Linked DNA regions of Homo sapiens: region 2 is linked to region 1. A link means that fine-mapping ties the variant in region 1 to the expression of a gene that starts in the linked region. Tissue or cell type: whole blood. Region 1 holds a variant in brackets; the other region holds the start of a gene. All regions are shown on one strand. Distances are between the middles of the regions.

What was found. PIP is the estimated chance that this variant, and not a neighbour inherited with it, causes the effect.
Region 2: SERTAD2 starts here. The variant in region 1 is fine-mapped to the expression of SERTAD2 in whole blood (TOPMed, PIP 0.98).

What each region holds. Positions count from the first base shown.
Region 1 is chr2:64,856,477-64,861,623 of GRCh38, reverse strand. The region is part of intron 1 of LINC01800 (long intergenic non-protein coding RNA 1800); the gene reads left to right. Among named protein-coding and RNA genes, the nearest start is that of LINC01800, 4.6 kb to the left of the region's middle. RefSeq lists an enhancer at 968-1,187 and silencers at 1,515-1,718, 1,478-1,997, 2,035-2,329. The variant T/C (reference allele first, on the strand shown) is at 2,105.
Region 2 is chr2:64,651,239-64,656,385 of GRCh38, reverse strand. It overlaps SERTAD2 (SERTA domain containing 2), which reads left to right and starts at 2,473. Exons shown (of 2, transcript NM_014755.3): 1 at 2,473-2,766. LOC124907776 reads right to left here and starts at 2,315. Exons shown (of 1, transcript XM_047446580.1): 1 at 1,163-2,315. The coding sequence starts at 2,106. The coding sequence ends at 1,675. RefSeq lists an enhancer at 899-1,058 and silencers at 1,840-2,659, 2,397-2,691, 2,800-3,129, 3,430-3,509.

The DNA of each region.
Region 1 (5,147 bases):
AGTGGTGTTCAATTGCTCAGGTGCAGGTGTGAAGTAAACAGTTTGATTTAACCACAGCTGGGTTTTCGCCCAGTGAATACAATGGAGAGAGACCAGAGCAAGGAAGGTAGGAGTGTTTGCCAGGGAGATTTTGTGTGCTGGAGCATGGAGTTTCAGTTCTCAGCTGGCTGAGAACGAAGGCCTGAGGGGAGAGATGTCATGAGAAAACAGGAGAGTCATGGAATAGAGGTCTGAGATGGGAAAATTGCTGAGTCCAAGAACTAAAGTAAGTGACCTGGAGGACTGATAGGTGAAGGGATCTCTGGATCTGAGAGTTTAGAGATGGTGTAGACATTCATGGTTCCAAGATCTAGCATATGACCAGGAGGCTGAGGCAGGGCAGGAGGAATATTCTGCTAGGGCTAAGGATATTAACAGTCTTAGAGATCGGAGTGTTGGGTGGGTCATCAGCATAGATGCTGAAGTCACCAAAAATGATGATATGAAAGGAGATAGAGCCTGATACTAAAATAATCAAGGGTTGGGGGAAGTGACTAGGAGGGTGACAGATGACATTAGGAGGGGTGATTTGTGGCTTTTTTAATTAAATATTTTTAATTTTTAATACTTTTTAGAGTAGTTTCAGATTCACAGCAAAATTGAGTGGAAAATCCAGAGTTCTATATATCCACCCTCCTGGGAGCAGTGTCCCCCACTATCAACATTCCCCACCAGCATTTGTTACAATTGATGAACCTAAGTGACACATTATCACCCCGAGTCCACAGTTTACATTGATGTGAATGCTTTATTCTTACTTTACATTACTTTTGCTGTTGTACATTCTGTAGGTTTGAACAAATGTATTATGACATTTATCCACCATTATAGTATCACATCTAGTAGTTTCGCTGTGCTAAGAGGCCGGGCTTTTGAAAGAGGAAGGAGAAACCGTTTAGAAACTTCAGTGATCAATGCGGAGTACATCTTCAGGCCCTGAGCTGCATAGCTGGAGGGAGAAAAGAGCCTCTACTGGAGAGGGCTATAGGGCAGCAGTGTCCTGGGGGCAGGTGGGCTTCTGGAAGAAGAAAGTGAGGGTCCTAGTTTTGGAGGAGCTTGAGAGTAGAGGCCTGGGGTAAGACTGGGGAGCGCAGGCAGGGTGGAGGCAGGGTTGGCTGCTGGGTGCTCAGCAGTGTGGGGTCGGGCATGTGTGCTGTGGTGAGTGGGGGCGGCTGGGGCAGGTGGCAGGCCCTGGAGGGAGGTGGCAGGTCGGATACCCTCACCTCGCCCTGTTGTGGAAGCTTTCCAGAAGACTTTGGGGAAAAACAGACTTCCCTTTCCAGGAACCCCTCTAAATTCGGTTGGTCGTGGTTCTCGGGGTTTATTATGTCCTTCCCGGTATCTCCAGCGTTCTTCTTCTCTGTGGATTTCTTATTTCCTCAATTAGACGAACGTTTGGGCAGGAACCCCAGCTCTACCATTTTACACCCGCTCAAGTGCAATACAGCACTTGACACATCATGTTTGTTGATTGCGTTGGATACAAGTGCGGTTTGGTTTCCCTTCCCGGCCAGGAATCCAAGAATGCACCCTCACCCCGCGGCTGCCTCCCGGGGCCAGCTGCCGTGCTGGTCCCCGGTAACCCGACGCCGGGCCGCTCCCCCTCCCGCCCCGGGGCTGCGGCCGCCAATGGACGCAGCCCGAGCCTCCGTCTGGGCCATGGGCCCCTCTCGGCGCCGCCCCCGCTGGGCTGGAGCGGGGGTGCCCGAGGCAAAGGGCCTGCAGGCGCGCGAGCACAAACCGGCTCCAGTTCCTAGCCCCTGCTCGCCTCCCTCTTCGTGTCCCGGCCCCGGCCCCGCCGGGACACCTCTGCCCCCTGCCTCGAGCCCAGGAGGCCAGGCTGCCGCCCCAGGGCGCCCGGGCAGTCGCAGACGGCGGCCTCCAGAGGGCCACGCCGGGGCCTCTCCCAGCCCGGGAGCCAAGACACTTGGCTCTGGCCTCTCTCCACCGTTTGATCTGCCCAGAGACCTTGGGCGGTCCGAGAGCCTCCGAGCCTCAGTCTCCTCATCTGTAGCTGGGGCTGGGCCCTGCGCACCTCTGAGTGGAGTGATGCAAGGGTGAAGGG[T/C]GTGAAAGTCTCCCTGTGTTGCCCAGGGGTCAAGGTCAAACCCAAGACACAGTGCCGCCAGCAGCTGCCCCGCCCGCAGCAGCTGCAGAACCGCAGCTCCTCCTGCCACCATCCAGGGAACTCCCTAGCTCCAGAGGAGGAGCCTATCAAGGGCACTTGGCTTTCCTCCACGTCCCCGGCACGGCACGAGGCGTTTCCTGCAGCTCCTAACTTCCAATGTAGAAATCAGCTCCGGGTTTCAGCAACCCTGGGAGAGGAGGCTGGAAATAGACGCTGGGCCAGCAGGAAGGTGCACAGGCGGGACACCTTTCAGCTGCCTGTTTCATCTCCCGTACATGATACTTGCTAGAGTGTAATAAGTGTACCAGAGGAAACACTCACTGACAAAGCCTATTTTCTCCCCAGATGGTTACAAATGCACATTCTTGAGTGACCTTCTACAGGCTACAAATACTGACGTATTTATACTGTACCTTGGGTCATGGTACCCAAAAGAAAAGCAAAGCAAAGGAGAGCTCAGAAAATACATTCTAGTCTCAAAGAGGAAGGAAGACAAAAGAGGATGTCTTTGTCAGTCTGCATTATGTTAACATTCATAGCCTCCCGTCACCCCCCATGATGGCAGGGCACAGGTCACCTATGGTGATGGGGACATATGAAGTTCCCTGAGTTCTTCACTTCTGTGTCATGTCCTGAACGGAATCCCAAGTTAGCTCCTGGAACCCGCAGCCTTGGCTCACACCAGCAATGTCACAGAGGTAAACTGCTCTCGCTTCCCTGAGCTTGGACTTCAGGGCCTGGCAGCCCCACCAGGCCCTCACCCTGGATGAATCCAACAGTAGGAAGTGACTGGGGAGTCCCTGAGCAGACAGAGGGAGAGGTGCCCACCGGCCCAGGCCTGATGTTCTTATGAATTCTTTTGGTTCCAGACCTTTTTGGCCTTGCCAAGCCCTACAGGAAAGATCAGAGCAGCTGGAAATTTCTAGCAGGAAAGTGCCAGGTTCTGAACAGGTCCTAGTCTGACTTAGAAACAGTTAGGGGCTGGGGCTGCTGGCGGTTGGCATTCTTGTCTGCTTGGTCTCACAGACAGGCAGGAATTGCTTGCTCTCAGAAGGGAGTGCTGCCCCTGACGCTGGGCTGGAGCCGAAGTAAACCCAGGACACGGGGCTGGGGACGATAATTAGAAGCCTCACTTCCACTCCAGCACCAAGACAGCGACACAAAGGGCCTCCTCTGCTGGCCAAGCAGGAGGGGACGGGCTGCCCTGGGGAGGGCTGAGACTGTCACCCAGTGTAGGGCCAGGCAGCTGCAAATGAAACACAGGCCCAGAAGGCTCAGACAGGCATTCAATCTTTCCCAGAGCCAAGAAATCCTGGCTAGAAACTTGACTACAGAGCGAGGAAAGGCACCGGGAAATACTTGAAACCAGGCAAGACCCCTGGTAATGCTGGACTTCTGACAAGCAAGGAGTCGGGCCAAGTGCTTCTTCCCGCCTGGCCCAAACACAAAAGCTGAGCTGGCCAGAGAGGTCCCAGGGGAGATGGGAGAGCAGCTTGGGAGGAACCCAGCAGGAAGAGGAAAGCAGGCAGCAGAGTGATTTTTACCCTGCTCAGACCCCAGAGTTTTCGCACCGCAAGTCTGCAGAGCAGGGGCCCCCACTGTCTTCACACCCACAGCCAAGGCCCCTCCGGCCATTGGAGGCTCACACAAGGGGGTTATGGAAACGCCAGTGTGGCAGCGTGGGGTCACCAACACCTCAGTGGCCAGGCTGCATGGTGCCTGGGCCAGCTTCTCTGTGAGGAAGGGGAGTTTGCAGGGAAACTGTTTGCAGAAAAGCTGTTCCTACTGTGGAGGGACTGACCTTGGCCCCTGGAGCAAACTCAGTCCTTAACCACGTGCTCAGGCTACTTAATTTTAAATGAATTTGCACAGTTGCGTGTTATGAGTGAATTCATAAACCTACAAAGGAATAGTCTTTTATTCATGCTGGTATGTGTGGAAGGGGGTTACTTTTTTAAAGTTCTAAAATTAAAGAAAAAAAGATAAATCATCCTGTGTTGAGGATTGGATTTTGCAACTGAATTCTCTTTATCCTTTGCTAGATCTTGAGAAAAGAAAGAAGAAAAAGAAATATGCTGAAGTATGATGACTTAAAAAAAAACTCTGAATATAAAAGTAGAACATGCTCTATAAAAAGAAATTCAGACAAAAAAAATAAAGAAGGGAACAAAAATCACCTGTCACCACGCCACCAGTGATAGCCCTGATAACATTTTTGTATATTTTTCCCATACTATTTTCTGTGCATACAGACATATGTTTTTATGTGAGCTAAAATTGTTAACATGGTCATGCTCTTAGCATTCTTCCTGCCCCTGTCTACTGAAGAAAATCTTGAATTTGTCTATTTGGTTTCCTTCACTTCTCTCTTCTAGGGAGAGGAACAATTATTACTTGCTGAGAGGAGCTAAGCTGATCTGCATGATGAAGGAATGGAATGGGCTAAGGAAGACGTCCAGACAGGGAAAAGCCTTATGGAAGGGAATTCAACAGAGTTTTCAGAGATTAGCACATTTGAGGCTCTCTAAATAATCAGATGTGGAGGAAGGGGCTTCTGAGATGAGCTAACACGACTATGACCCAGAGTCTTTTAATGTTCTTCCAAATACGTGATCAAATAATGGAATTTATTCTGTATTAATTTTGAGCACTAAACTGTGCATTAAGTCTATAGAGGGATTGGACCCTATGGTCTCCCCTCTGATTTACAAGAATTATGTTTTTAAAAGATGGGGTCATACTATATTTACTTTTACTTATAAAACATTTTAAAATTTTAATTTTAAATTAATTAATTTATTTTTGACACAGAGTCTCGCTCTGTTGCCCAGGCTGGAGTACAGTGGCTCGATCTGAGCTCACTGCAACCTCCGCCTCCTGGGTTCAAGTGATTCTCCTGCCTCAGCCTCCCAAGTAGCTGGGACTACAGGCCCATGCCACCATGCCCAGCTAATTTTTCTATTTTTAGTAGAGACAGGGTTTC
Region 2 (5,147 bases), 210 kb after region 1:
CTTAAATGGGCTTTTAAATCTCCCAAAGAGTGAGAACAAAATTTACATATTCACTAAACACTGCTTATTCAATGACATGATTTGAAATAATATTTTATTGAATAAATATTTCAAATCATGTCATTGCATACTGAAGGGAGCTGACTTCAGAAGTGTGGAAAGTGCCTTTCCTTATCCTCATAGACTTGAATTTCTAGGGCTGGGTAGAGATTGCTGTCCTGGCCTATGTGTGGCTCAGCCTTGGGGTAGGGGGTTGCATAAGGGGAGGGAGAGGGTTAACCAGCTGGTGTTAACCACATTGGCAGCTGTTGAAACTGCCAGCTCACTTTAACTTCTTGGTCAAAGATGCCAGATTCTAAAAGTGGGGGAAGTGGGAGCTATTTGTAATGTGTACATTGATAAGATGTTACAGCCTTCAGAGGTATAAAGAGATGGAAACTATTTCACTCCAAAAACGCAGGTTGCTGGTCTCGTTAAGAGCGCAAACCTTTGTTTGAGCAGGTACAGAATACAGACCTTATGGACTTCAGCAGAATCCTGTCTATCCTAGTGACACAAAATTGTCACTTTGACTTAAATCCTGTTATTTTATACAGAAACACTGCATTTGGTGTAATCTATTTGCTAGAAAATATCCAAGTGTCACAAAAGTTCTGCAAGTGTAACTTCCTGCTTACTTTAATTCAAGAATAGCAGTTTAAATTCACAAATAGCAGTTTAAATTCACCTTAAATTCAACAGAGCTAATGCCTCTGGCCTCCTCTACAAAGATATCACAGGAAGAGATTATTGCAGCTTCTATTTCAATGGCTTTTCCTTAAAGTGAGCACTGAAAGTATAAGTGAGTGGGTGGTTAGGAAACTGTTAGTAGTTAATGCCCTCTCTAAACTGCAGAACTCTGGAAATGAAAAATATCTTCGCTTCACAGCAAAATGTTTGAATGTTATGCCACTCAGGCGCAAACTGAGCAAGACCTGCAGAGGGCCGGTGAGCACAGCTTCCATAATATGTCATTTTGAATGCCATTATAATGAGACTTTGCAAAGATATCCACAAATAATTAGCTTTTGGCTTAGGTTATACTGTATAAGACTTTAATTATACTGAGGGTCCAGTAAAAACCTTTTCCATCCTCCTTAAAGATAAAACAAGAAGCGTTGTCTCCTCTATCAACATTTCAGCACAAGTTTAATTTCGATGAGATCATCAATTTGATTGATAACAAATCATTACAGAACAGTTTAAACAAGTCTAAATTTCTCTTGATGTTAACGACTTACAATCGCCTTTATGTTAGGTCTTAAAGCTTTATTATTCTTAAATACAACTAGTATAGTGGACCATTAAACTCCAAAGTGATCTGAAATGATATTGATTGGGGTGGCAGCCAAAATTTTAAGGTGCCTGCCTGCATTGCCTTTTACATCTTGACGCTGAATGCACGTGTAATTTTTAAAATAATCATTAATTTTCCAGTGGAACCATCTATCTGGCCTCTTTCCCTAGTGCTCTTAAATTCTCACCATTTGGGCATACACACATTCTCTTCCAACTAGTATAAATTTCCCTGGTAAATTTAAGTAGTTCCAAGCATAAGCTTACTCCACGGGAGGGAAAGGCTATCAATGTGAAACTTGTGGGCAGAGGACTGCGCCTCCGACCTGGCTGCGTCTCCTAGCTTGGCTTCCCTCCTGCCGGGTCTGCACCGAGCCCCGGCCGGCCCCGAAGGATGCAACTCGTTCGGTCCGGCTCCCAAAGTGCCGTGGACTTGGTGACCCACTTCTCGTGTCGGGCTGAGGCCACGCGGGCAAGGGACTTTTTCTGTCCCCGGCTCACGGCTGGAGCCCCCATCCTGCCGTTCGGACCAGTGCGGGCCTCGGAGGAGTGTCCCGCAGCGGACCCCCGCCCAGGAACCCCTGCAGGCAGCGAGACGGGCGCCCGGGCCAGCTCTCTGCCCCTCGCCCCCCGCGGGGACCCTGCCCGCCCCGCTGACCGGCCCCACGTTGCCAAATAGCTCAAATGCTTGTCATATTTGCGGTCGCGCGGCTCCGCGGGCTGTGCACGCGCTGCACTCGCCGCCGCCTTTGTCACCAGCCGCTTCGTCATTCGCCTGAGCACTTCTAGAGTGTGTAGGGGGCGTTACTAGTGGCAGTGGTGGTCCTCGGGCCGGAGTGTCTCCTTCTGTCTCCCCTCCTCTTTCAGCCCGTCCTTACGAGAAAATCAGGGGCGCGCCGGCCCGGCAGGGAGCTGGGGGCGGCGCTGCCACCAGGCGCCCACTGCGCCCCGCCGCCCCTTCCTGCTCCTCCTGCGGCCGCGGCCGGCCGCGGCCGGCCCCGGCCTTTATCGCGCCTCCCGGGACCGCCGGGGAGAGGCGGGCCGGGGCGGGGCCGGCGGGGGCGGGGTCGGGCGGCCAGGGGCGGGGCCTGCGGCGCCGGGGCCCGGAGCTCGCGGGAGGCTCGCGGGCCGCACGTCACTCCTGCACGGCGAGTGCTGGAGCACGACGTACCGCTCGCTCGGTCAGGGCGCCCCCTCCGCCCGCCTCCTGCTTCCTCCTCCGCTGCCTGCCGCCGCCGCCTCCACCATTGTATAATGCTCGGGGCGCGCAGGCAGAGAACGGCGGAGTCTTAGCTTCAGCCTCGCCTGCTGCCCGCTCCCCGGCGCCACCCTCGGGCCCCTGGAGCGGGGCACTCCGCATGGAGCGGGAGTAGCTGAGGAGTGGGCGGAAACCCCTCCTGATGCGTTAGTTCCCAGGTGGAGCTGCATGTGGTAAGTTCTCCCGGCGTCGGGCTGGAGGGGATCCGCGGGCGCGGGGGGCTCCGGGTGGATGGGGGGCCGGTGTTGGGACTCGGCCAGGGCTGGGAGAGCCCGGAGGGCGGAGGAGGGGCCGGGCGCCGCCGCGGGAGGGAGCCGGGGACGGAGCAGGTACGGGAGGAGCGCTCCCTCCCGCGGCCCCGGTCCGGGCCCCGCGCTCTCGGACCCCCGGCGCCTGCGGGCTGAGCCGCTGGGGGGCAGGGCCGGGGTCAGGAGGGGGTCGGGAGCTCGGAGAGCCGAGCGGCGGGCGGGGGCGCCTGGAGCTGTCGCCTCTACAGCTGGGATGTGTGTGCGCGTTGTGGCGGTTGTGTTGTTGTGAACGTGCGAGACTTTTTTTAAGGCTCGGATTGCTGGCGCGAAGGCTGCTTCACTTTTGAGTTCCGTGGCCGGGTTTGCATCCAACTTACTGTAGTGCGTTTTTGTGAATTTCCCGGTGTTTTTTTTAATAATGTTGAAAACCTTCCTCTCCACCCTCTTTTCTTTCGTCCATGCCCAAATGAATTGATTTGGGATCTACATGTATATTAAACTTAACGTCTCGTTGGTTTTTAAGTTAGAAATCTACAAGTCATCTTCGTGGTAACCGCCTATGACTGAAAGGGAGGGGGCTGAGGGGAGCCAGCTGTCCCAAGCCCTAGACTTTGTACCAGTAAGAGAGGGGGTGTCGTCACAGGGCCACTACATGGACAGAAAATCGTATTTTGTTTTGTTTTCTTGGCTATAAGTTACCTTTAGCAGAAGTGGTAGTAATAGATTGCGATGGGAGTCGAGTTTTAGGTTTAGTTTCTAAGTTTCACGAAAATATCAGGTATAGTTTGCATTGGAATAACTTTTTGCTTGCAAGCCGAGTCGTTTCAGGAGGTAGAAAGTAAGTTTTCACAGACACTGAATGGGGAGGACAGTCAGCAGAGTGAGACAGCCAGCCTCAGACCACAGCAGTTTTTATTTGAATCGAATTGGGCAGCCTCAGTTGGGCTTAGGGTAGAGAGTACATGTTTTCAAGCTTTGTTCATGAAATACGCTTTTTGATTTCCCAATGTATGTTAAGAAATATCCATAATGTGTGTAAAGAGGCTAGAAGTTGTAGTCACCAGGATTCCTGAGGCCCTAAGTGTTCACAGTAGCTTTTTGTAGTTAGAGACTAGTCCCTGACAAGAGTGAAGTGGGCTTTGGGCTTCGCTCCGCCCCTGAAGGACCGTCCACCTGAGAGCGTCTGGGCTGCTTGGCCGATGGGGGTTGGGGGTAGTTGCTCAGCTCAGCAGAAGGCATGTCTCACCCTGGCAGCTCCCATCCCTCCCCCTTTTTATAGCAGTCTATTCTGATATGAGTGTGCTAGGGTGTGCTGTGAAGATGAAAATATCCATCCTAAGATCCCAACTTCTGGAGTGAACAAGAATAGTTTGTTTGTGGATCTCTGCTTTTCTGTTTATTTTTTCAGGGTTTTTTTTCTTTTTATTTAAAAGAGACAAATGTTTAAAAGTTTTCCTTTAGCTTCATTGACTTCTTTAGAGGGGTATTATATGTTAATATAAAATTGTTTATGTCGTTCATTAAGTTTGGAATCCTTTAACAGTTTTTTTTTTTTACTTGTTTCACCCCCTAATTAAAATATACATAACCATGTTGTTCTCAGATGAGAAATCTTATTTTGGATTTGACATCCCCCAACCCCCTTTTTCCTTAACACCCGGCCCTTTTCCTTACTTCATTCAGACAGGTAAGGGAGAGGACTCACATTTTGTAAAGCCAACCAAGTGTATGTGTGACAGGAGGTGTCCTAGGGAACGGTTTTATTGTCAGGCGAATGTCACAGCGTCTTAGGTAACAGCTGCTCAAGCTTGTTTCCCTTGAAGAACTAAGAGAAGGATATTAATTCAGATTTAGAAAATCTTTACACTTCTGTTTGCTGAATTGTCCCTCTTTAAAGCTTTTCTATTTAATTGAGAAGCTAAAATATGAATTTTGCCCAGTTGCTACACACTGAATTATTACTGATAATGAGCCTAGTAAAATAGCACATATTTTGATATTTTAAAACTCATTCAAATTTGTGTGGCGACTGATAGCTTATGGTATCTGCTATTTTAAACAGGGTTCCAATGGCAGAGTAAGTTACAACACTACTTTAGAAAGGCACACACATGCATCACACACAAAAAACATTACAAAACGTATGAAGGCAGTTTGAAGATGTTCGAATGCAAATACATAAAAATTTCTATCAACTTGCAGCATGCTACTTTTATTATCAGTGTCCAATTATACTACAAGTTTACCCTCAGACAAAATATTTTACATTTTAGTAACTAAGAAAGGTGAAAGCTGGAACAGAAACT